7 linked regions of the Homo sapiens genome follow. The protein of the gene in region 6 purifies or fractionates together with the protein of the main gene of each other region. This does not show direct contact. Each region holds a gene or a part of one and is shown on either strand. Other genes may lie near its edges.

Region 1 (2,258 bases), on a different chromosome or scaffold from region 6:
GCACTTTCACATATCTTGGGAGCTTTATTCTCATAATTCTCACAAGGGAATAACCTGAGCATCAGCTGTGTGGAGTGACCTACACCTTGACCATGATTCTGGGGGATGATGAATGAAAATGCAAAGTATAAATCTATACTCCTTAGGAAAATGCCTCTACTACAACACAAAGGAATCTCTCCATTTCTATCCTATTGAACCCCCAATTGAATCCTGTATCTTTTCTCTGAGCTACAATCTTGAAAGAAGAAAGTCACTGTGCTGTGTTATAAGAATGTAAATATTTTATGCTGTCAGTTGTTTCCTCAGAATTTATAAGTCAAAGGGTCTACATCAGTGTCAGAATCATTTAAAATTATTCAGTGTATTGAAAAGCAAGTAAAACTCTAGGTATTTCATGTTTACATCTGAAGGAGACATTAGTTCATCCTCTACCCCTTTTCTAAATGATGAAACTCATGAGGTCTAGCAGAGACCAAGGACTAATACAATCAAGAAGCATATTGTGTACACCTCAACAGATTTTCATTAAAAAAAATTGTTTGATACAAACCTACTGTAGTTCATGAATTTACTATGTGTAATCATCAACTCTTCACTTTTAAAAGAAAGTATCACTTGAATCTATTTTGTAAAGTTTTTAAACATCTACTTGAGCATTTGCATTAGCAGTATTAATCAACCTGAGAATCAGAAAAAAAAAAAAAGGTGCAAACATATTTGCCTTTGGCACGAGGACAAGTAATTGGTGCAGTCCAGCTCTAAATAATAATGTAATGCTTGGTCTGCCTCTGCTACATTGTGATTCACATATTGCTTCCCTATCCACAAATCTATATTTGATTTAGCATATAAAAGAAGGGAAAAAGCAATAAAAAGACAAATATGTGGTTTAGTTACATATACTTTGCTTCTTTCCAAGTTCAGAACTGTGAAAATAGGCAAATAGCTTATCCCATTGGGGCACTATAAGAGATTCCTAATAAAATTACTCGTAAAATATACTTTGAGATCGAAGAGAGTTAATTTAAAATATAAAAATCAAAGAGAGTGCCAGTTGATGAGTTTCTACTCCTTTCTGTAAATAGCATTAACTGTTCTAGAAACTTCCAAATGTTAATCTGATAGCGCAGCACAATTATATCTTAAAATAGTCATAGACACAGGAAGCACAGATACTATATTCACATTAATTCACATATGTAATCTCTATCATTAAATGATTTCTATAAAACCTCAAGTTTCTAATTAGGATTTGTGGTGTAAAAAAAGGCAAATTGGTAGCTGGGTTCTTTTCAGTAAAGACACAATCAACTAGCAGAATTAAGATGCTAGTCCACCTTATATGCATTTTAGGATCTGGTATATTAGTGCAGAGGTACTTGCAGCAGGATGCATGAATCCTGCCTTTATATAAGGCTTTGTGGGTGTCACCATTCTGTGCACTTTATTAAAACTACTCCACCCCCCAAAACCTAATAAAAATAATTGTTGCTTATGACTTGGGGAATATTTGGTGAAGTTGCTAATAAAGTACATTGTTAAATGCAACATGATTTCACATTGTAAATGTCTTGAAAATTCAGTTTCCGCTACATATTTTCTTCATAAAATAAAATTTTTATACAACCCTTGTCCTCCAATTTTTCCAATAATCTGCTTTATTAGGGCCATCACAATAAAAGTTTGGGGCAAGAAGCCATGCATAAAGTGTTTCTAAAGTAGTGAATGTTTTCTGTTCTGTATCTTTTTTTCTTCTTATAATTTCTTTACAAATGTCAGATATTTCTCTTCATATTTTTGTTCTAGGCTTCTGTGCGACGATAGTCCATTTTTTTAATTTGTTTTAACTGACAAAAATTATATATATTTATCATGTATAACATTGTTTTGGAATATGTAAGTTGTGGAATAGTTAAATTGAGCTAATTACACATTATTTCATATGCTTATCATTAGATATTCCATTTTAATGGCACTTGTTTTTAAAAATGAAACAGAGTTTTAGGCACAATAGTCAGTTACTTCTGGCTCTGCTTTGTGGAGAAAGGTGTATGGACTGAAATCTCTGCACTCTCCAGATAATAACTTTCTAATGCTTTAAGATAACTAGATTGTTTTTAACTGTCTGGAAATTAAAAGAGACCTTAAAAAAAATTCACAAGTGTAACTAGTGTATGTAGAAATAACCCTAATTTTAGGGATATGCACATAAAAATGACATTCTGATATCAAAAATAACAGTTTCACTGTCCCTT
Region 2 (3,500 bases), on a different chromosome or scaffold from region 6:
TTAATTCAGATGGACTTTAAATTAGGGTGGAGTGAGGGGAATGGAATTATGAGGGCTTCCAGGCAGAGAAAAGTGATCAGAAGTGGAAAGTGTAGGAGCCTTTTCAAGGACTAGTGTTTTCGGGATAACAGAATATAAAATTAGAAAGAGGCCATATTGGGAAAGACTCTGAAGAAGGGCAGCAGATAACGATATTTCAGCAAGCAATGGAGACCCATTGAAAAGTTTTTGACTTTGAGTGGCAGAAAGGGTAAGGAATGACACTCTTTCAGTGGTCTGGATTGGGTGCTAGGTCATGGACATCCAACCAGGGTGACAGCAGTAGAATAGAAAGGGAGAGACTGGATATGTTATTGAAGGACTGCTGGGTAGCCACTATATGAGGTGCTTTGTGGAATAATGTTTAATTGAGGCCAGATTATCAAGGTTGGATGGAGAGCTTTGAACTAATTGTGTAGGTAACAGGGAGTGGTAGATTTAAGAGAAATGACTCATAAAGCAGTGCTTTAGGAGTCGTTTGTCAGGGCCACAGGAATTAGAGGAATAAAACTGTAGACTTAACTTGGGGGCTGATTTTGTATGGCAGATACGAAGTGAGAAACTGGGCCAGTGGTACTCAAACATGGGAATGAAGGTGACAATGGGGAAGAGGCATTTGGCAGTGTCTAGAGACATTTTGATTGTCATAACTAGAGGGGAGAGAGCAGTTCTACTGGCATCTAGTGGGTAGAGGCCAGAAATGTTGCTAAACATCCTGCAGTGCACAGGACAGCCTCCACAAGCATTATGTGCCCAAGATGTCAATAGTGCTGAGACTGAGAAACCCTAACCTGGACTATAGTGGTGGGAGTGGGACAAAAAATCAGATATGGGCCGGGCACAGTGGCTCATGCCTGTAATCCCAGCACTTTGGGAGGCTGAGGCAGGTGGATCACCTGAGGTCAGGAGTTGGAGACCAACCTGGCCAACATGGTGAAACCCTTTCTGTACTAAAAATACAAAATTAGCCGCATGTGGTGGCGCATGCCTGTAATCCCAGCTACTCCAGAGGCTGAGGCAGGAGAATCACTTAGAACCTGGGAGGAGGAGGAGGTTGCAGTGAGCCAAGATCGCGCCACTGCACTCCAGCCTAGATGACAGAGCAAGACGCTGTCTCAAAAAAAAAAAAAAAAAAAGAGAGAGAGAGAGATGGTAGAGATTATGAAGGTAAACGTGATAGGCCTGGGTTATTTGGCAGTGTTTTGGTGAGAATACAGTGGGGCAAGGATTATTCTTTGGACACCACTCACAGTTAGAAAAGGGGCAGGAAGAGGGCTTACTTTTTAAAAGAGACAATGATGAGTTTGGTTTCAGACATTCTTAGATGGCAATTCAGATCTCTTGGAGACAGTGGGAAGTGGGTGGAGATTTGTCCACCCCAACTGCTGGTTCTTACAGCAGTTCAGGTTCAGAGGTTCGGGATTTCTTCCTCTGTTTTGCTCACCTAAGTGTTTAGGGACGGGAGACAGTGTCACATAGACTGGGCATGCACATACATATCAGGACCTTGGTTGGTACAGTAGTTTTCGGTGTTTGTTAGTAAAAGTTAGGAGGAGACTGAGTCATCTGGGGGCATGAGTGTAGAGAACAAATAACACCGAGTCCAGAACCAAACGAGGAAGGAGCTGGCATTTATCGAGTGCCTATTATGTTCCTTTAACCAGGCAAATCATTTTCATGGAAGAACTCATTTGATTCTTGCAACAACCTTGTGAAGTGGGTGTTATTCTTGTTTATTTTTATTTTTATTTTTATTTTTTGAGACAGTCTCTCGCTCTGTTGCCCAGGCTGGAGTGCAGTGGTGCAATCTCGGCTCACTGCAACCTCCACCTCCCAGGCTCAAGCGATTCTTCTGCCTCAGCCTCCTGGGTAGCTGGGACTACAGGCATGCGCCACCACCACACTCGGCTAATTTTTGTATTTTTAGTAGAGTCGGGGTTTCACCATATTGGCCAGGCTGGTCTTGAACTCCTGACCTTGTGATCTGCCCACTTCAGCCTCCCAGAGTGCTGGGATTACAGGCTTATTCTTGTTCACTAAGAACTTGATAGCAGATAAGTTAAATAATTTATTTGTGAATATTCGTATCTCTCCCTTACTATTATTCACGTCCCAGCTCTTACCTTCTCTGGTCATGTGGTTTGGGAGCAGGGTGAGGAATAAAATTCAGTTGGTCTGATTTTGACTTCCCCATAGTTCTTATGAACAGTAGGGATTTTAGAATATCTGATTTTGTGTTACGTATCAACTTACTCCTTTGCGTAGTAAGTAGTTTAATGTATGATGATGTCTTGAAACACAGCCACTTCAGAGAAAGAGGGAGATTCTTGTAGTTGGTGTTCAGGGCACACACAAATACAATTTTTCTTTATTACCACTGTCAGATGTTTTAAGGTGTGTTCATTACAGTTGCTTTTGAATAGCAGAGGAAAATCTATTCTGAGTTTAAGAGTTTGTTTTTGAAGACAGAATGTCAATAGACAAAGTGAAGGAGTGCATGCTTTGTAAAATTATGCTCCATGCCACATAATAGCAAGATGAGGGGGAGAAAAATCTGGCTCATAGGATTTAATCATGAGGAATTTTGCTGTCTGCCGAGCAAGAAAATATTCAGTGTTGTGGCTTAAAAGTCAGCTTTTCCCAAAGTAGTTTATTTTGTTTTTTAAAGATTAGGAAAGATATACTATTTACCACACTAATCAGAATGTTTTCTTAGCTTTTACCAAAAGCTTCTGTTTTGGGAAATGTCTTAAAACTTCATACAGACTTTGAATGCATAATAGATTGATAAAGGGTTCTAGTACTAACTGTTCTTTCATTGAGGTTTGTAAGCAATGTACCCTGTTAATGAAGCTGAAAATCTTTAGATCATTTGTGTAGAGCAATATCTTGTTAGAATATTTGCATAACACATAAATTTAATGGGGAAAAGCAATAACAGTGAAACAAACCATTTTGTTTTTGTCTTGAAACTTGTTTAAATCAATTACAAGATCTGGCATTAGTGATAAGTTTAAAAATAGGAAAGCAGAGCTCATTTCTGTGTTGAAAGTTATAAACTTAATAAGTCTCAGGTTTGTTATTCTGGAGTAGTGGTTTTTAGTTCTGAATCACTAAAATAATTGTAATAAACTACAGAAATAATCTTGCCATAATCACTTACCTATACACAGTTGAAAAAGATACTGTTTGTGAAAGAAGTCACAGTCAATGTGTTTCTGTAGTGTCCTATTTATTTACTTTTAAAATTTCTGTCTTCTTGAGTTTCTTGTGCTAGTTTCAGTCATTTTGTTTGTTTGTTTGTTTGTTTTAATCAATAGCCCAGAGTTAGAGTTTTAGTATATTGGGAATTCGTGCCAAACATTTGATGGAGCGACACAAGAGCATGAGAAGCTGGTATAAAGAGCACTAACTGTGGGAGGCAAGTTCCAGTTCTGGCATCAGCTAACTTTGTAACCCTG
Region 3 (3,500 bases), on a different chromosome or scaffold from region 6:
AAGAATAACAGCCCTTCTAAGAAGCCTCTCTGAAATGTTTTTGATGACCAAAGCAATGCTGTCTATATACTGTTCTTTTCCATGTGTTCAGAAATGCTTCTGATCACCACCAACCCATATGACTTCGCATTTGTCAGCCAAGGGGAAATTACTGTGCCCAGCATTGATGACCAGGAAGAGCTGATGGCCACAGATGTAAGTAATAGGTACAAAGTAGTAAAAAGTAAATTCATTTTCCAGTGTACAACACTCTCCTCTATTAGGGTGGAAAGCAGTGGCAGAAAGACTATAAATAGGTAATACAACCCTTTGGGCTTTCTTACTTTTGGAAAAAAATTGTAGGATATTTCAATACCCTCCCCCTACATGTGTTAAAAAGCTTTCACTGCCTGTAATAAATGTTGGGTCTTTAGTATTCCTTAGCTAGTAGGCTCCTTTCATTCTATCTTTCTTATTAGTCATTTTTGGTTGATATTTATGCTCCAATATTAATGTTTCTCTGCTATTTTATGCCACACCTCACACCCAAGATTCTGGGAAGGAGCTGCAATATTATTACAACTAAACATGGAACTCCCACTGTTCTTCTACAGTCACATGTAAACATAAGCCTTATTTTGAATAAACCTCTGTGGGCCAATGATATATCCCTCTCTACTCCCTAAGCAGCATTAGAAGAAGTGGGTTGTCTACTTCAAAAACACTCATTTTGGGGACTCCATAAGCCTTTATATTTATTTTTGAAACAACGCACTCTCTCCCCACCATCACCTCTTTTTTAAGGATTATTGCTTTTTGGCTTACTTTCTTTATATGTAAACTTTATGTATATTTCATGCTTTCTTTTGATTTCTGAATAATCTTCCTTATTTTTAACTTTAATATCAGTGGGACTATCCCAATACCCCCAAGTTAGAGTTGACAGTGCTTGCAAAACTGCTTTTTCTATTAAAATATTATTTTCAAGAAGTCAATAATTCATTTGTGTGGCTTTATATTATAAATATCAGCTTTAACTCTCTATAACTTATTATTATCTTTGTATGTCCAAAAGTGATAGGGAGTTAAGAAACACACCCTGGTCTGCGAGGTTAAAAAAATGTAGCAGTCTTGCTCTAAGACTTCCGTAATAATGTCTAGTTTCTGTAAATAGGTAGAGTTAGTGAGCTGGAAGTGGAAGTCAATAATCTGGGGAAAGAGTCTTAGGTAAGAATGGTAAATAAACATATTTTCCTCTGCCTGCTCTGAATCCTGCCCCCATTTATAAGCCTTTTCAAAGCCTATGTGGGCAACTAAAAAGGTAATCAAAATTCGATAGAGAAAAAAGACACAGAAATATTATACTAAATGGCAAAATTCCTTCTTTTCATAAATGTCTCTTCTCTGCATGAGAAATAAATAACTAGGTAAAGTTTGCTACCCCAGGCATCTCGTGGTCGCTGAGCTGTGGCTTGCTATCAGAGAGGCATGTGGAGAAAGACTCACAACCATTGCTGTTCTCCTCATACCCTCTTTCCAACTTTATCACTCATGCCCATTAGCAGGGGAAGGTAGACTGGGATTATGCATTAGGATAGGACAAATAGGAGAAGAAGGAGCAACAGAGAGACTCGTGAGACTGGAGAAAAGAAACAAAAATAGCCAAAAGACCAAGAGGAGCATGTGCCTGAGAAGCAAAGGGGGGCTGGGGTGGAGAAAAGGGGCAAAGCACTGGCCTTGGCATCAAAAGTCATGGCTCTTAGTCCTGGTTCAGTGAGTGTGGACAAGTCACATCATATGCTGTGACCAAATGGACTCATGACTCAAATGGAAAGACTGATGCATACCTCTTCGTGTTGCCATGTGGATCAAAAGGTAAAGCATATGAGTACCTTTTGAAGATGGCAAAGTGCTAGTCAAATATAAGGCAAGGCGTGATGAGAAAAAAGTGGGAGACAGCCCCGGTGTTCTGAGGGATTCTTCCATGGTGCTAATTGGGGATGAGCAAATTCAACTCTTTTGACAGAGTGCTGTGGACATCCTGGGTTTCACTGCTGATGAAAAGGTGGCCATTTACAAGCTCACTGGAGCCGTGATGCATTATGGGAACATGAAATTCAAGCAAAAGCAAAGGGAAGAGCAGGCAGAGCCAGATGGCACGGAAGGTACCACCCCCTGTTGGTATCTTCCACTTGACAAAGCTGACATAGTGAACTTTTCAGAGGCAGGGACCGTGTTTTTACTTTCTCTGACCTAGCTCGTGAAGGGCAAAAGTATTACGAGAAGGAAATTACACACTGCCTGACGTTTTACATTATTTAGCAGATTTGTGATTTCTGCTCATTCCATTATTCATTGGCTTTTCATAAGCTCATATTTGCTATTTGACTAAAACATATTTTATTTCAGGATAATCTGTGTGCCCACAGGCACTGAAAGAAACAGAGATCTGAATATTTCTGTCACTACTCCTCTAGGTTAGGGTTTCTCAAATTATTTTTATCTGTGGTCTACTTTTGCCAGGTTAAATATCACAGACAGCATCGATTCCCCAACCTCCAATTTATCATCACAAGAAATGACTAAAATTAGTGCAAGTGGTGGCAATGCTTTTGAGGCAATATGAACAAATGAAAAGGTTTCAATGACATTTGCACATCTTACTTTTTGAGTGAAACCTTTTTTCTTTGTCATCATCATTTACATTTTAAATTGTGTAAGCCATGGTCAGTTTCACCATTCTCACCTTGTTCACACAGTTGCTGACAAAGCTGCTTATCTGACAAGTCTGAACTCTGCTGACCTGCTCAAATCTCTCTGCTATCCCAGAGTCAAGGTCGGCAATGAGTTCGTAACCAAAGGCCAGACTGTGCAGCAGGTAAACATGACTTAAATTGTCTGATTTATTTGAACCGCAAGTGACTCAGGAGTTCATCACTGTTTTCAATTTAAAAAACTAAACTATCACTTCTGTTGAAGGTGTACAATGCAGTGGGTGCTCTGGCCAAAGCCATCTACGAGAAGATGTTCCTGTGGATGGTCACCCGCATCAACCAGCAGCTGGACACCAAGCAGCCCAGGCAGTACTTCATCGGGGTCTTGGACATTGCTGGCTTTGAGATCTTTGATGTGAGTAGTGAACTGACAGAAAATTAGCCAGTGCAAATCCTCTTGTTAGAGCATACAAAATCACATTTACAAAATGTACCTTACAAAATATACAAATGTAATTCCTACTGAAAGGAGTCTTTGAAAAGATATGAAAAGTAAATAGGTATAAATAGGAAAAGAGAAAATTCTATTCTTTTGAGTCTAGAAGTCTCAAAAGTTGATCCCTGAGAGGTTAAAATAGTCAAAATCTATCCTGGATCCAAGCAGATGAGCATGAGAACACCTTTTTAAAATTACTCTAAGGAAATATTTCAGAGTCCTCATTTAACAGTATTTTGCCTAGTATGCATGATCTCATGCAGTTACTTGGAAAATAAGTATTCAAAGAATCAATTCTACTTTGTTTAGAA
Region 4 (3,500 bases), on a different chromosome or scaffold from region 6:
ATGCTCATGGGTAGGAAGAATCAATATCGTGAAAATGGCCATACTGCCCAAGGTAATTTATAGATTCAATGCCATCCCCATCAAGCTACCAATGACTTTCTTCACAGAATTGGAAAAAACTACTTTAAAGTTCATATGGAACCAAAAAAGAGCCCACATCGCCAAGTCAATCCTAAGCCAAAAGAACAAAGCTGGAGACATCACACTACCTGACTTCAAACTATACTACAAGGCTACAGTAACCAAAACAGTATGGTACTGGTACCAAAACAGACATATAGATCAATGGAACAGAACAGAGCCCTCAGAAATAACACCGCATATCTACAACTATCTGATCTTTGACAAACCTGAGAAAAACAAGCAATGGGGAAAGGATTCCCTATTTAATAAATGGTGCTGGGAAAACTGGCTAGCCATATGTAAAAAGCTGAAACTGGATCCCTTCCTTACACCTTATACAAAAATCAATTCAAGATGGATTAAAGACTTAAACGTTAGACCTAAAACCATAAAAACCCTAGAAGAAAACCTAGGCATTACCATTCAGGACATAGGCATGGGCAAGGACTTCATGTCTAAAACACCAAAAGCAATGGCAACAAAAGACAAAATTGACAAATGGGATCTAATTAAACTAAAGAGCTTCTGCACAGCAAAAGAAACTACCATCAGAGTGAACAGGCAACCCACAAAATGGGAGAAAATTTTTGCAACCTACTCATCTGACAAAGAGCTAATATCCAGAATCTACAATGAACTCAAACAAATTTATAAGAAAAAAACAAACAACCCCATCAAAAAGTGGGCGAAGGACATGAACAGACACTTCTCAAAAGAAGACATTTATGCAGCCAAAAAACACATGAAAAAATGCTCACCATCACTGGCCATCAGAGAAATGCAAATCAAAACCACAATGAGACACCATCTCACACCAGTTAGAATGGCAATCATTAAAAAGTCAGGAAACAACAGGTGCTGGAGAGGATGTGGAGAAATAGGAACACTTTTATACTGTTGGTGGGACTGTAAACTAGTTCAACCATTGTGGAAGTCAGTGTGGCGATTCCTCAGGGATCTAGAACTAGAAATACCATTTGACCCAGCCCTCCCATTACTGGGTATATACCCAAAGGACTATTAAATCATGCTGCTATAAAGACACATGCACACGTATGTTTATTGTGGCACTATTCACAATAGCAAAGACTTGGAACCAACCCAAATGTCCAACAATGATAGACTGGATTAAGAAAATGTGGCACATATACACCATGGAATACTATGCAGCCATAAAAAATGATGAGTTCATGTCCTTTGTAGGGACGTGGATGAAATTGGAAATCATCATTCTCAGTAAACTATCGCAAGAACAAAAAACCAAACACTGCATATTCTCACTCATAGGTGGGAATTGAACAACGAGAACATATGGACACAGGAAGGGGAACATCACACTCTGGGGACTGTTGTGGGGTGGGAGGAGGGGGGAGGGATAGCATTGGGAGATATACCTGATGCTAGATCATGAGTTAGTGGGTGCAGCGCACCAGCATGGCACATGTATACATATGTAACTAACCTGCACATTGTGCACATGTACCCTAAAACTTAAAGTATAATAATTAAAAAAAAAAAAAAAAAAGAGTGTGAAACGGCCTTCATGAGGCTTAATTGTGGCTTAACCTGGCACCACCCCTCACAAGGTCAAAGCTATACATCAGCTCCTGTGACATTGACTCATCCCCCAGACCTTATCTAAAACAACGGAGCAAACACATGCTAGGAAGGGCACCCGGGAAATGGAAGGCATTGTTCTATCTCCTCACCTGATTCCATATCTCTGTATTCTGCCCCAAAATGCCTCCACTGGAAGCCATAAACTGGGCCCAAGTCCCCTTCTTCTCTGGTGGAGAATCCCAGGCTGTCCAAAAAGTCTCGGGATCCATTGGCATCCCAGATTTTCACTCCCTTGGAAGACAGCTCTTTAGCATTTGTGGATCCCTGGAAGAGATGGGGAGAGCAGAGCAGGCATCCAGGTAAATCCTAAGCCATCTCAGTTGATCCCCCCGAGACACCACTTACAAGGGCCTCTGGCCCCTGCTGACTTGCTAGGAGGTGGGCACTTGACACCACCCATATGGAACCCATCCTTTTTTTTGTTTTTTGAGAGTTTCGCTCTTGTTGCCCAGGCTGGAGTGCAATGGCGCGATCGTGGCTCACGGCACCCTCCACCTCCCAGGTTCAAGCGATTCCCCTGCCTCAGCCTCCCGAGTAGCTGGGATTACAGGCATGCGCCACTACACCCAGCTAATTTTGTATTTTTAGTAGAGACAGTGTTTCTCCATGTTGGTCAGGCTGGCCTCGAACTCCTGACCTCAGGTGATCCGCCCACTTCGGCCTCCCGAAGTGCTGGGATTACAGGCGTGAGCCACCACACCCAGCTGCCCATCCTATCTTTAAGTAGGCTGGTCCCAGCCCAGATTCCTGAGGGCTTTAGGACAGTCTGATCCCTTCTTTGGAACCACCCTCCCAGATCTTTTCTTCCATTCCCCTCAACTAAGCTTTTTAGGCTAAACACCTCCAAGTGCTTTTAAGTATTCCACCGATCTGACAGTTTTATGTTTCTTAATGAAATGTGTTGTCTATATGTAATACCCCAAAATGAATTTAATGCCTACATGCAATCTGTTCAATGTATCTTCTACCTGGCATACAGGATATTCCTAATGATCAGACTAATCAGTATTTTACAGTGCAGGTGCCTCAACTCCTGTATTTGATCGAGTCACCAATGGAGTAACTCCAACTATCAAGGTGAGTCTGACATTCCTGGCAAGGATTCCTTAGAATCCTGAATTGAAGCATTAAGTTGAAACAGGGGAATGCATTTTATTTCTGAGTATCTTGCTTCCTCCCTTTCTATTGTTGAGTTTGTCCCGATTTTCTTTGATTGAGAAAGAATCAAAGAAATTTCCAACAAATCAAAGAAATTTCTCCAATTGAGAAATTTCCAACAAATCATTTCTCAATCTTTTACATATTGCTTCAAAAGTCTCTCCTTTTCATCCATTCAGACCAGGCTCTAGCCAGTTTAAGAATGTTGTCTTCTGAGGTTTCTGATGATATGTTTCAAATCCAAGGTTCATTGTTAGTCAAGATAGGCCAATACAGAACAAAATACCCCAAGAATACAGAGCTAAGGCAGACCTGGGGCTGGATCCAAATTGAAGCCCTTTCTAAAATGGGATAAGAGGGCTTGGGTCTGGCTTGCCCCAAGACCATACAAGCCATACCAAGTGCTCTATAGAAGGGATCCCAGCTTCTAGTATGGCCCAGACCTGAGCCCAGACCTCAGCCACCTTCCAAAAAGCACTGGTCAGAAAGAACATCGCTGGTTCTAGACCAGGACACGGAACACAGAGAAGCTTGGTCTGGGCTGCTGCCTGTCTTCACAGCACTCTGGCCCCGGCCTGAGGTACCTACTCAGCCCTCTG
Region 5 (3,426 bases), on a different chromosome or scaffold from region 6:
GGCAGCTCACCTTTGTGCTGAAGCTGCCCTACGCCTGGTCAAACCTGGAAATCAGGTAAGCTATTTTATCCAATTCCAAAGCTCGTTTGAACCAAAGATGCATTAGGCACCTATAGCTACTCTATATGAAACTACCAACCTCCCCTACAGACCCCTTATAAAACAGCTTTTTAAAATTAGCTATATTTAGCTGGGCACAGTGACTCACATCTGTAATCCCATCACTTTGGGGGGCCAAGGTAGGAGGATAGCTTGAGGCTGGGAGTTCAAGACCAGCCTGGGAAACATGGTGAAACCCCATTTCTACAAAAAATACAAAAATTAGCTGGGCGTGGTAACATGTGCCTGTATTCCCAGCTTCCAGGGAGGCTGAGGTGGGAGAATCACCTGAGCCTGGGAGATTGAGGCTGTGCTGAGCTATGATCATGCCACTGCACTCCAGCCTGGGCAACAATGAAACCCTGTCTCACAAAAGAAAAAGGAAAAATAAGCATTTGCTGTCCCCACAAAACAGATTAGAATGCCAGGTAAAAAAGGATAAACACTGGACTTAATATTATAGGCATGTGGTGGCACATGCCTGTAATCCCAGCACTTTGGGAGGCCAAGGTGGGAGGATTGCTTGAACCCAGGCATTTGAGACCAGCTTGGGAAACATAGCGAGACCCGTCTACAAAAAGAAAAAAGAAAACCCAGGTTTATGACCAAGTTCTTTCACTTAACACTCATTTAACCTGGGGCAAATCATTTAACCTGAGACTCAGTTTCCTTGTCTTCTAGATTGGGATATACATCTGCCCTGTTCACATGCAAAATTTATTGAGTTAGACCATCTTTGTGAAAGCACTGGGTAAAATGATATGCAGTTACAGCTGGTCCTCAGCTTGATGCTACATTCAGTAGAAGCTATACTTTGAGTACCCATACAACCATTCTGTTTTTCATTTTCCATATAGTATTTAGTAAATTACATGAGATATTCAACACTAATATAAAATAGGCATGTGTTAGATAATTCTGCCCAACTGTAGGATAATGTTTTTTAAGTGCTCTGAGCACATTTAACATAGGCTAGGCTGTGATGTTAGGTAGGTTAGGGGTATTAAATGCATTTTTGACTTAGTGATATTTTCAACTTATGAGTTTTTTGGAGATGTAACCCCATTGCAAGTTGGGGAGCATCTGTATAAAGTATTTTTAGATTGTAGGGATAATCAAGCTATGAAATGAAAAACCAGTGAATGACAATCATTGGGGCTTGATGGAGGATATTAGAACGCTCAGTTCTGCCAGGTGCAATGGCTCATGCCTGTAATCCCAGCACTTTGGGAGGCTGAGGTGGGCAGATCACGAGGTCAGGAGATCGAGACCATCCTGGCCAACATGGTGAAACCCCGTCTCTTCTAAAAATACAAAAATTAGCTGGGCGTGGTGTTGCGTGCCTGTAATCCCAGCTACTCAGGAGGCTGAGGCAGGAGAATAGCTTGAACCCGGGAGGCAGAGATTGCAGTGAGCCAAGATCACGCCACTGCACTCCAGCCTGGTGACAAAGCCAGACTCCATCTCAAAAAAAAAAAAAAAAACGCTCAGTTCTTTTATGCTTCTTATTCTCATTGTAGAGAACTTATTAGCTCCTGATATCTCACCTTTCATTTGATGTTGTACTTCTAGAACACACAAGTGACAGAAGCCTGGAACAAAGTTGCCCACTCATTTAACTGCACGCCAATAGAAGGTGAGAACAGATAACAGGGTTGAGGGTCTAAGAATGAGTGGCTTTGCCAGGTGCGGTGGCTCACGCCTGTAATCCCAGAACTTTGGGAGGCTGAGGTGGGCGGATCACCTGAGGTCAGGAGTTTGAGACTAGCCTGGCCAACATGGTGAAACCCCGTCTCTACTAAAAATATAAAAATTAGCTGGGCGTGGTGGTGGGTGCCTGTAATCCCAGCTACTTGGGAGGCTAAGGCGAGATAATCGCTTGAACCCGGGAGGAGGAGGTTGCAGTGAGCCAAGATTGCGCCACTGCACTCCAGTCTGGGCAATAAGAGCGAAACTCCATCTCCTCCATCTCAAAAAAAAAAAAAAAAAGAATGAGTGGCTTTGCAGAATTGAGGCTTTTGCTCCCTTGAAGATCTATCCTGGCTATAACCCAGTCTAAGCCAGAAATCTCAGAGCCCTGTGTTTCCATAACCAGGTAGTTGTCTCACTGCCTACCACTTCAAACTACTGAAGTGGGTGGATTTGGAAACCTTTTGGGATACTGGATAGCTTGTTCCATAGGTTGTGTACTATCTACAGGTATGCTGTCACACCAGTTGAAGCAGCATGTCATCGATGGAGAAAAAACCATTATCCAGAATCCCACAGACCAGCAGAAGTAGGTGCCAACCCTACTTATTACCTTCTACCACACAAGACTAGTCATCAGGTTTTTTTCTATACTCCCAACTGAATCTTGTCCGCCCTCTACTCCATGTTTTCAGGAGTGACCTGTTGCTCTTAATATTCCCTTTCTCTAGGCCGGGCGCGGTGGCTCACGCCTGTAATCCCAGCACTTTGGGAGGCTGAGGCGGGTGGATCACCTGAGGTCACGAGTTCAGAACCAGCCTAACCAACATGGCGAAACCCTGTCTCTACTAAAAACTACAAAAATGAGCCAGGCCTGGTGGTTTGTGCCTATAGTCCCAGCTACTTGGGAGGCTGAGGCAGGAGAGTTGCTTGGACCCGGGAGGTGGAGGTTGCAGTGAGCTGAGATTGTGCCACTGCACTCCAGCCTGGGTGACAGAATGAGACTCTGTGTCAAAAAAAAAAAAAAATTCCTTTCTCTCTATTCCTTTTAGGAAGGACCATGAAAAAGCTGAATTTGAGGTACATGAAGTATATGCTGTGGATGTTCTCGTCAGCTCAGGAGAGGGCAAGGTGAGGAGAGTACCAGAGTTGGCAAAGAGGGGTGACTGAGAGTGTTCACCAGACCAAATGTTACTTAAATTACTCTTTCAGGCCAAGGATGCAGGACAGAGAACCACTATTTACAAACGAGACCCCTCTAAACAGTATGGACTGAAAATGAAAACTTCACGTGCCTTCTTCAGTGAGGTGGAAAGGCGTTTTGATGCCATGCCGTTTACTTTAAGGTACTAAGCAATGATAGTACTTGGAACCAGTCTGACTCACAGACCATACACCCAGGAACACTTTTTCCTCTCCCTTCCTGCCTAGACTTGTAGCGTGCATGTGCTCACTCCCTCCCTCTCTCTCCCCATCTCCTTCTCATTGAAGGTAATGTAAAAGAGCAATCCTAAGCATGATTTCTGCCTGAGGGTAGGAGCTATTTTAAAATATGAGCAAAATGGTAAGACTTGATGGGGAGTTAAAGATACCTCTGAATATCATCTTCCCTGCCAGAGCATTTGAAGATGAGAAGAA
Region 6 (3,500 bases):
GTTATGATAAATTGTTGGGCTATGAATTTTTCTCAGTTTGCTGCCTAGTATAAAAATTTAGTGGATAAAGATTCTTGGCCGGGCGTGGTGGCTCACACCTGTAATCCCAGCACTTTGGGAGGCCGAGGCGGGCAGATCACGAGGTCAGGAGATCAAGACCATCCTGGCTAACACGGTGAAACCCCGTCTCTACTAAAAAATACAAAAAAAATTAGCCGGGCACGGTGGCGGGTGCCTATAGTCCCAGCTACTTGGAAGGCTGAGGCAGGAGAATGGCAGGAACCCGGAAGGCGGAGGTTGCAGTGAGCTGAGATCGCACCACTGCACTCGAACCTGGGAGACAGAGCGTGACTCCATCTCAAAAAATAAAAATAAAAAAATATTCTTTACTGTAGTTAATGTGAACTTACTTGCTAAATTATAGTAGGGATGGAGAAGAAACAGTAAGCCAAATACTAAGAAAACAGTTTGGGCCAGGTGCAGTGGCACACGCCTGTAATCCCAGCACTTTGGGAGGCCGAGGCGGGTGGATCACGAGGTCAGGAGATCGAGACCATCCTGGCTAACATGGTGAAACCCCATCTCTACTAAGAATAAAAAAATTAGCCAGGCGTGGTGGTGGGTGCCTGTAGTCCCAGCTACTCGGGAGGCTGAGGCAGGAGAATGGCATGAACCTGGGAGGTGGAGCTTGCAGTGAGTGTGGATCGCGCCACTGCACTCCAGCCTGGGCAGCAAAGCAAGACTCGTCTCAAAAAAAAAAAAAAAAAAAGAGAAAGAAAGAAAACAGTTTGGTTGTATAAGTTCAGCCATCTCATCTTTTGTGATTGAATTATCAGTTTGTGCCTTATCTCGTTTTCTTGCCTGTCCTTCCTCTTGGGGATTCACCTCTGTCCACTTTTCATTAGCATCTCTCCTAGAGAATTACATAAAAGGGATGAAATTCAAACAAGTCCGTTTGACTAATTGGGACCATCTCTGACCAAATGTTTATTGATGCAGGAGACTGAAAATAATATTTAATTTGAGTATTTGGAGAAGGAAAATTCTGGGCATTTTGTTGTTTATGAAAATAAACCTATTAACCTATAACTATTTTCAACAGCTTGTGACAATTTAAATAATTGTTAGTAAATGGAACTAGTCTCCCAACTTCTCAGTTTGCTTGGAAAGGTCGTGTGTTAGTCTATTTTATGCGCCTGTAACAGAATACCACAAACTGGGTAATTTGTAACCAACAGAAGTTTATTTGGCTCATGGTTCTGGAGGCTGGGAAGTCCAAGATCAAGGGGCTGGCATCTGGTGAGGACCTTCTTCTGCATCATTACATAGCAGAGGGCATCACATGGTGGGGGAAGAGGAGGGGGGAAGGAAGAGAAGGAAGGAGGCTGAACTCGTCCTTTTATAAGGAACCCACCCCCTCAGTAACAGCGTTAATCCATCTGTGAGGGCAGAGCCTTCATGATGTAATCACCCCTTAGAGGTCCTACCTCTCAACACCTCAGAATTGGGGATCATGAACTTTGGGGACACAGTCACACCATAGCAGATAGTATTACTGAGTCTACCCTCAGCACTGTGATTATTCCCTGTAGCTTTTAGAGGAAGACAAATGGACTAAAATGTAATGTGATAATATAAGAAGGAAATTATGAATATGACTGGTGTGGTGGTATGTATCTGACCTAGTCTTGCATCTTATCCTTTTAAGATACAGATGTTTTGGTAGGAGTCTGAAACCTGTTCAGGCCTATTAATTCAGGTTATTCTGATCACCTCTAAAGGGGAAAAAAGAAATTTGCAGGGATTGTCATAGTAATGTCTTTAAAAACCTTCTAAAAAGTGTGCTAGCCCCATTGGTTGGCCACTTTTCTCTCTTAGTATTAAGCTGTGTGTCTTTCTCACGGACAGGAAGGAGCTGACTGCCGATGCACGGGAGCTGAAAGGGGAGCTATACTGCCTCCCATGCCATGATAAAATGGGGGTCCCCATCTGTGGTGCTTGCCGACGGCCCATCGAAGGGCGCGTGGTGAACGCTATGGGCAAGCAGTGGCATGTGGAGGTGAGTTCTAAATGGCAAAGGGTAACCAATCCTTTCAAATCTCCATGATTAAGGGGTAACCAATACTTTCAGATCTCCCATGATTCAGGGGTAACCAGTACTTTCAAATCTTCATGATTCAGGTGTCCTGGCAAGATTAGGAGACTCTAAAGATTAAACGTGGACATTTTAAAGACAATTGACTTTGCTGACAGCTAAGAATATATAATGTACACTGCTTTTGTGAATGTCTCAGTAATGATACAGGATGTGTACTTTTGCTCCTAAAGCCTTCTTGAAGCAGGAAGTGCCATGGTCTGTATCCAGCAGCAGCTCCTCCTTTATAGGTGCTACTGAGATGCTCACCTCTATTCTCTTTTTGGGCTATTATAATAGGCTATGTCTTAAAGTAACCTTCAAAGACAGACACCTGAATTACAACTGCAGAAGTATTATATTATGGGGCCACCTATGGCCAAATGAAATGACTGTCTCAAACTTTCCTTCATCTTCTCTGAAAATAGGTTAACTCTGGTATTTACTTTATTAGATATAAAATATGGCAATTCAAAAATGACCTATAGCAATTTTTTTTCAGCATTTTGTTTGTGCCAAGTGTGAGAAACCCTTTCTTGGACATCGCCATTATGAGAGGAAAGGCCTGGCATATTGTGAAACTCACTATAACCAGGTATTGACCTTAGTCACTGGATGCTAGATAGACTTTTATGAACCTAAGCTTATCAGTAGTTTAGCTACAAGGAAATCTCTTGGAAGATGTACATTGTTCAGTAGAGATTTGTTTTTAACTTTTTATTTGGGAAATAATTTCAGACTCAGAAGCTAACTATAAAATATACAAAGAATACCTGTATGTCTTTCATTCAAGTCCACAGTTTGCTTTATCATTTCCCAAGCTCAGTCTTCCTGTGTAAAACACATAGTTACGTAAATATTATATACAAGTACGATGGCTGTTTTGCCAATAAGTTCATCATACTCCTTTATCCCTAAATACTTCAGTGTATATTTCCCAAGAATATGGGACTCTCTAACATAATTGTAGTTATCAATATTGATACCGTACTCTAACCATTTATTCCAGTTTTGTCACTTGAGTCAATATCCTCACAGCATTTTTTCCACTCCCAGACTGGACCCAGCCTCTGGCTGTGATGTTTCTTTAGCCTTCTTAAATCTGGAACGTTTCCAGAGTCTTTTAAAATTTTTGATGACATTGACATTTTGGAGGGATGCAGAGGGCCCCTAACCCCTTTTTAATAGACTACTTTCCACTTGGGTTCACCTGGTGCTTCTCTGTGCTTAGATGAGGTTATACACAGCAGGTTGTGGCCTCATACAGTGGCAGGGCATCTTCTCAGAACCTTGCCCCTGGAGCATTTTATACCTCTCCTGCCCTGGTGATCTCCCAGGCATGGTGCTGGCTGATAACATCACTGTG
Region 7 (4,062 bases), on a different chromosome or scaffold from region 6:
CATGCCCCGTTGCTAGAAGAGCATGGCATCGGTTGTGTTCTGTGCTCGTAGGCTGGGCCCCAGCTCCCTTTCCTCCCCTCCTTTGTGGCTGTTCCTCAGGCCTGCAGAGGGGAAGATTTTTCCTGTCCTGTTACTCTGCCTCACTTGCCAGAACACTAGTCGCCTCCAGCTCTGGATAAAGCTGAGGCTGGGTGGGCCAGACAACAGCTGTCTTAGGGGTCTCCTTCCAGCTCCAAGTAGTTGTATTATCTATAGCTCTGAGAGGGTCTGTCTCTGGGCTCAGGCCTTTAGTACCTGTGGGGCAGAGCCAGGAACGTGAGTCAGGCAAACCGCTCCAAACTAGGACCAATGCAGCTGGGTCCTGCTCTCTGCGCATAGGGGGTCCCCACATCTTTGGAATCCCAGCCCACCTTTCCAGGCTACCCTCCACAGGCCGGGCTCCACTCCCATCTGCTGAGGTTTCCCACCTTGAATCCTGCTGCCCCGATTAGCTGTATAACCTTAAAGAATGCACTGTCCCTCTCCATTAAATGAAGTGCTTGGATGGATTGCTAAAGGCCTGTCTGGCTCGGAGGCTTGGTGACCTCAACACATTGCCTGCTGGTCCAAGGAAATCAGTGCCTGAGCCAGAGTCCCCATCTCTAAGCTCCATGGTTATTGTTCTTGCCACCTGGCTAGGAAATGTCCTTCCAGCTGCCCCAGTCTAGCTGCCTCACCCTGGGGCCATGCCCCCAACTCTGTCCTACCCTTCTCTGCTGCTGACACTCAGCCCCTTCCCAGCTTCCAGTTGGATACAGGACCTGGGCCAGGAGAGCAGGGAGGACACTGTGGAAATGCGGCCAGGCCATCAGGGGCCTCGCAGCAGGGGACTGGAGGGGGAGCAGTGTCCAGGGCCAGAAGTGCCCTGCGGGAGAGCCAGGACATTGGCTGCCTGTGGTCTTGGTGGTCGTGGTCAGTTCCCTCTCCTGCCAGCTGTGGAATGTGAGGCCTGGCCTGGGAGATATTTTTGCTGCACTTTGAGCCACCCCGCCCCCTGGAACTCAGACCCTGCACAGTCCATGCCATAACAATGACGACCACTTCCAATTGTTTCCTAGCTGGAGAGGCGGGGAGGGGAGCACTGTTTGGGAAGGGGGGGAGCCTGGGGGAAATGCTTCTAGTGACAACAGCCCTTTCTAAATCCGGCTAGGGACTGGGTGCCGTTGGGGGTGGGGGTGCCCTGCTGCCCCATATATACAGCCCCTGAGACCAGGTCTGGCTCCACAGCTCTGTCCTGCTCTGTGTCTTTCCCTGCTGCTCTCAGGTAGGAGCGGGAGCTGGAGGCTTTACTCTGGGATAAGGGGGCTCCAGGCTTAGGAAGGGATTCCTCTTGGAATAGCAAGCTTCATGCAGGACTTCATGCAGAGTACCAGGTCCAGTCACTGGGCACACATGTGCAGGTCTAAACATGGGCGTATGTGCCACAGGAGTTCCTAGGGGAAGATATCTGCATCTGAGCATATGGGACCAATATGCATTACAGGGTGTGTGTGTGTGTGTGTGTGTGTGTGTGTGTGTGGACAAGCCTGCATAGTCTGAATGTGAGAAAGGGTATGTACCTCACTGACTGATACAGAAATATCAAGTGGGAGATGTGGGTGTATGATCACGTCTGTGAACGAGGAGGTTCCTTTGCAGGGAGGGAGAAAGAATGGTGGAGAAGGATTCTAGGAAGTGTGTATGCCTTCATGTGATTCTGTGAGGCCTGGAATGTGTAGCTACCCCTGTCCATGCATGCAGAGGTTCTTGTCTATGCCTCCACGAGTCATGACTGTTATAGTATCTGTACCCTCTGCAGAAGGAACTCACAGGCACGGGGGTGTAGGATGTTCCAGGTCTTTGTGTACTGAAGAACACGCAGTGATGTGATCTACTTACGTGGCACACATCCTGAAATGTGCACATTTGCTGTTGAGGCATATATGGCACCCTGGGGTTGGGGTGCGGATTGAGGTATGGGAAGGAAGCCTGTCTTCATGTGAGAGGCATGCCCAAGCAGCAGGCATGAGTGTTCATCAGAGGGCTTGTGGAGGGTGTTTGGCTATGTGATGGGTGTGTCTGTGAGAGGAAGCCCACAGTGTCTTCTCTCTGAGAATGTCCACAAAGTCTGACAACAAAATGGGGACAGGATGGAAAAGAAGTCTCTTTAGAGTCATCAGACTTGCATTCAAGTCTTGGCTCTCCCACTTGTTGTCATGGGCTCTTGGCCAAGCAAGCCATTTAACCTCGATTTCCTCATCTGTCAAATGGGGTGAAGACTGAGTAGGAGAAAGTGCATTGAAGTGCTTTTAGACTGGAAAGTGCCGAACAAATGTGACCATTAGTTGTCTCTCAGATGGCTCAAAGAAAGGTACCACTAGATGGGTACAGGCAGGGGTGGGACCATCTCGCAGGAGTGAAGAGGATTAGGGTTCAGGTTGAGTTGACACCAGGAAGCTGTTAGAACTAGTTCTTGAGGAAAAAGGGAATAGGGTTTGAAAAACAAGAAGGATGGGACCAGAGAAGCTGACCACCCTTTCCACCTTGTTTTGGAAGAGGGTGGATGCTGAAGAACAGAGCCAGGGAGAAGCAGGAAGGTGGGACTGGTCAGGTTGGGCACAGCCTGCCCTGACACAGCCTCTTCCCTCTCTCCAGGTCCCCTGCAGGCCTTGGCCCCTTTCCTCATCTGTAGACACACTTGAGTAGCCCAGGTAAGAAAAGCTGAAGCTAGAGTGTTGAAAATCTAGTAAGACTGGGCATTAGAGCCCCAAAGCCAGCCTATGGAACTCTAGTTTCTGCCATGTGCTGGAGAGAATATCTTGGCTATCAAGAGCTACTTACCTGTGACCAGGGGGTCCAGGGATAGATGAGGGTCAGAGATGGAAATAGTTAGATTTCTGCTCCTACAGGGAGCTCAGAATGCTCTTCCTTCCCCTAGGAGAGCCCCAGCTTGAACAATAGTTAGTTGTTCCTTTTACCCTGGCAGGTTTGCTAGGCTGCTCCTCTGGTTAAGGGGTAACCTCAAAGAGGAAGGGACTCACTGGTAACTCCTCTTGACTCTTGAGCATGGTGCTAGGTTTTGGGGCTCCCACTGAAGGGGAGAGCCCAGGGAGGGAAGGGAAGAATGGGCAGATGGGAGGGCAGCCAGCTTCTGCTCACTCCAGGCACAGCCATGGGAGATTCGGAGATGGCAGTCTTTGGGGCTGCCGCCCCCTACCTGCGCAAGTCAGAGAAGGAGCGGCTAGAAGCGCAGACCAGGCCTTTTGACCTCAAGAAGGATGTCTTCGTGCCTGATGACAAACAGGAGTTTGTCAAGGCCAAGATCGTGTCTCGAGAGGGTGGCAAAGTCACTGCCGAGACCGAGTATGGCAAGGTGGGTGTCAGGCTGATGTGAGAGTCCACCCTGGCCACCTGTACACCTGGGTGGACAGAGAGGGGTACACCCATGCCCCATGCCCATGCAGACCTGAGGATGGTCCCATTCTCCTTCCCTTTGGGGAAGAATCCAGACCCTCCAAAGAGCCCTCTCCTTCCCAATATCCCTTCTGTCTTCCCTGTGAGATCCTGGTTCCTTCTCTCTTGAGCACTATTGCCCTGTCACTCACCAACTCCTAACCCTCTTGAGGAAGGAGGGAAAGCCCAGGCTGACAGGAGGGCTTGGGTGGGGGCTCTTGCAGACAGTGACCGTGAAGGAGGACCAGGTGATGCAGCAGAACCCACCCAAGTTCGACAAAATCGAGGACATGGCCATGCTGACCTTCCTGCATGAGCCCGCGGTGCTCTACAACCTCAAGGATCGCTACGGCTCCTGGATGATCTACGTGAGTGCTGCACCTGGCCCTACGTTGGGATCTCTGTTCTTGCTCCATCCATGTCCACCCCAGGAGCCAAGAGTGTCTTCTGTTTGTGTCTAGGCAGGGTTACACTCTAACCTCGTCCCAACATCCTTGGTTCAATTCCAACACTCTGGGGACTGGCATTACTCAGATTGAGTGCATGCAGAGGTTTTCCTTTCTCTTCTTTCTCTCCTGGGATCTTTCTCTA

The links.
Region 1: the proteins of LIMS1 (region 6) and BMP2K purify together in Homo sapiens (affinity purification with mass spectrometry; 2 studies listed by BioGRID and IntAct, with this or other methods). This does not show direct contact.
Region 2: the proteins of LIMS1 (region 6) and REPS1 purify together in Homo sapiens (affinity purification with mass spectrometry, with the first as the bait; one large-scale study listed by BioGRID). This does not show direct contact.
Region 3: the proteins of LIMS1 (region 6) and MYH4 purify together in Homo sapiens (affinity purification with mass spectrometry; 2 studies listed by BioGRID and IntAct, with this or other methods). This does not show direct contact.
Region 4: the proteins of LIMS1 (region 6) and TYMS purify together in Homo sapiens (affinity purification with mass spectrometry; 3 studies listed by BioGRID and IntAct, with this or other methods). This does not show direct contact.
Region 5: the proteins of LIMS1 (region 6) and PA2G4 fractionate together in Homo sapiens (co-fractionation; one large-scale study listed by BioGRID). This does not show direct contact.
Region 7: the proteins of LIMS1 (region 6) and MYH7 purify together in Homo sapiens (affinity purification with mass spectrometry; 2 studies listed by BioGRID and IntAct, with this or other methods). This does not show direct contact.

The regions. Positions count from the first base shown.
Region 1 is NC_000004.12:78,912,350-78,914,607, reverse strand, and holds part of BMP2K (BMP-2-inducible protein kinase), read right to left. Parts: 3' UTR 1-2,258. UniProt on the Homo sapiens protein: May be involved in osteoblast differentiation.
Region 2 is NC_000006.12:138,981,754-138,985,253, reverse strand, and holds part of REPS1 (ralBP1-associated Eps domain-containing protein 1), read left to right. Parts: intron 1-3,500. UniProt on the Homo sapiens protein: May coordinate the cellular actions of activated EGF receptors and Ral-GTPases.
Region 3 is NC_000017.11:10,459,560-10,463,059, reverse strand, and holds part of MYH4 (myosin-4), read left to right. Parts: intron 1-91; coding exon 92-195; intron 196-2,005; coding exon 2,006-2,144; intron 2,145-2,738; coding exon 2,739-2,857; intron 2,858-2,958; coding exon 2,959-3,108; intron 3,109-3,500. UniProt on the Homo sapiens protein: Muscle contraction.
Region 4 is NC_000018.10:660,653-664,152, reverse strand, and holds part of TYMS (thymidylate synthase), read right to left. Parts: intron 2,008-3,500; coding exon 1,833-2,007; intron 1,168-1,832; exon of another isoform or gene 1,148-1,167; coding exon of another isoform or gene 1-1,147. Other genes in the region: ENOSF1 (mitochondrial enolase superfamily member 1), read left to right, coding at 1-1,147. UniProt on the Homo sapiens protein: Catalyzes the reductive methylation of 2'-deoxyuridine 5'-monophosphate (dUMP) to thymidine 5'-monophosphate (dTMP), using the cosubstrate, 5,10- methylenetetrahydrofolate (CH2H4folate) as a 1-carbon donor and reductant and contributes to the de novo mitochondrial thymidylate biosynthesis pathway.
Region 5 is NC_000012.12:56,107,559-56,110,984, forward strand, and holds part of PA2G4 (proliferation-associated protein 2G4), read left to right. Parts: coding exon 1-55; intron 56-1,671; coding exon 1,672-1,735; intron 1,736-2,298; coding exon 2,299-2,377; intron 2,378-2,840; coding exon 2,841-2,919; intron 2,920-3,000; coding exon 3,001-3,134; intron 3,135-3,405; coding exon 3,406-3,426. UniProt on the Homo sapiens protein: May play a role in a ERBB3-regulated signal transduction pathway. Seems be involved in growth regulation. Acts a corepressor of the androgen receptor (AR) and is regulated by the ERBB3 ligand neuregulin-1/heregulin (HRG).
Region 6 is NC_000002.12:108,673,970-108,677,469, forward strand, and holds part of LIMS1 (LIM and senescent cell antigen-like-containing domain protein 1), read left to right. Parts: intron 1-1,908; coding exon 1,909-2,059; intron 2,060-2,636; coding exon 2,637-2,729; intron 2,730-2,825; exon of another isoform or gene 2,826-2,961; intron 2,962-3,344; exon of another isoform or gene 3,345-3,500. UniProt on the Homo sapiens protein: Within the IPP (ILK-PINCH-PARVIN) complex, binds to F-actin, promoting F-actin bundling, a process required to generate force for actin cytoskeleton reorganization and subsequent dynamic cell adhesion events such as cell spreading and migration.
Region 7 is NC_000014.9:23,432,861-23,436,922, reverse strand, and holds the start of MYH7 (myosin-7), read left to right. Parts: upstream 1-1,262; 5' UTR 1,263-1,303; intron 1,304-2,673; 5' UTR 2,674-2,729; intron 2,730-3,182; 5' UTR 3,183-3,190; coding exon 3,191-3,391; intron 3,392-3,695; coding exon 3,696-3,839; intron 3,840-4,062. UniProt on the Homo sapiens protein: Myosins are actin-based motor molecules with ATPase activity essential for muscle contraction. Forms regular bipolar thick filaments that, together with actin thin filaments, constitute the fundamental contractile unit of skeletal and cardiac muscle.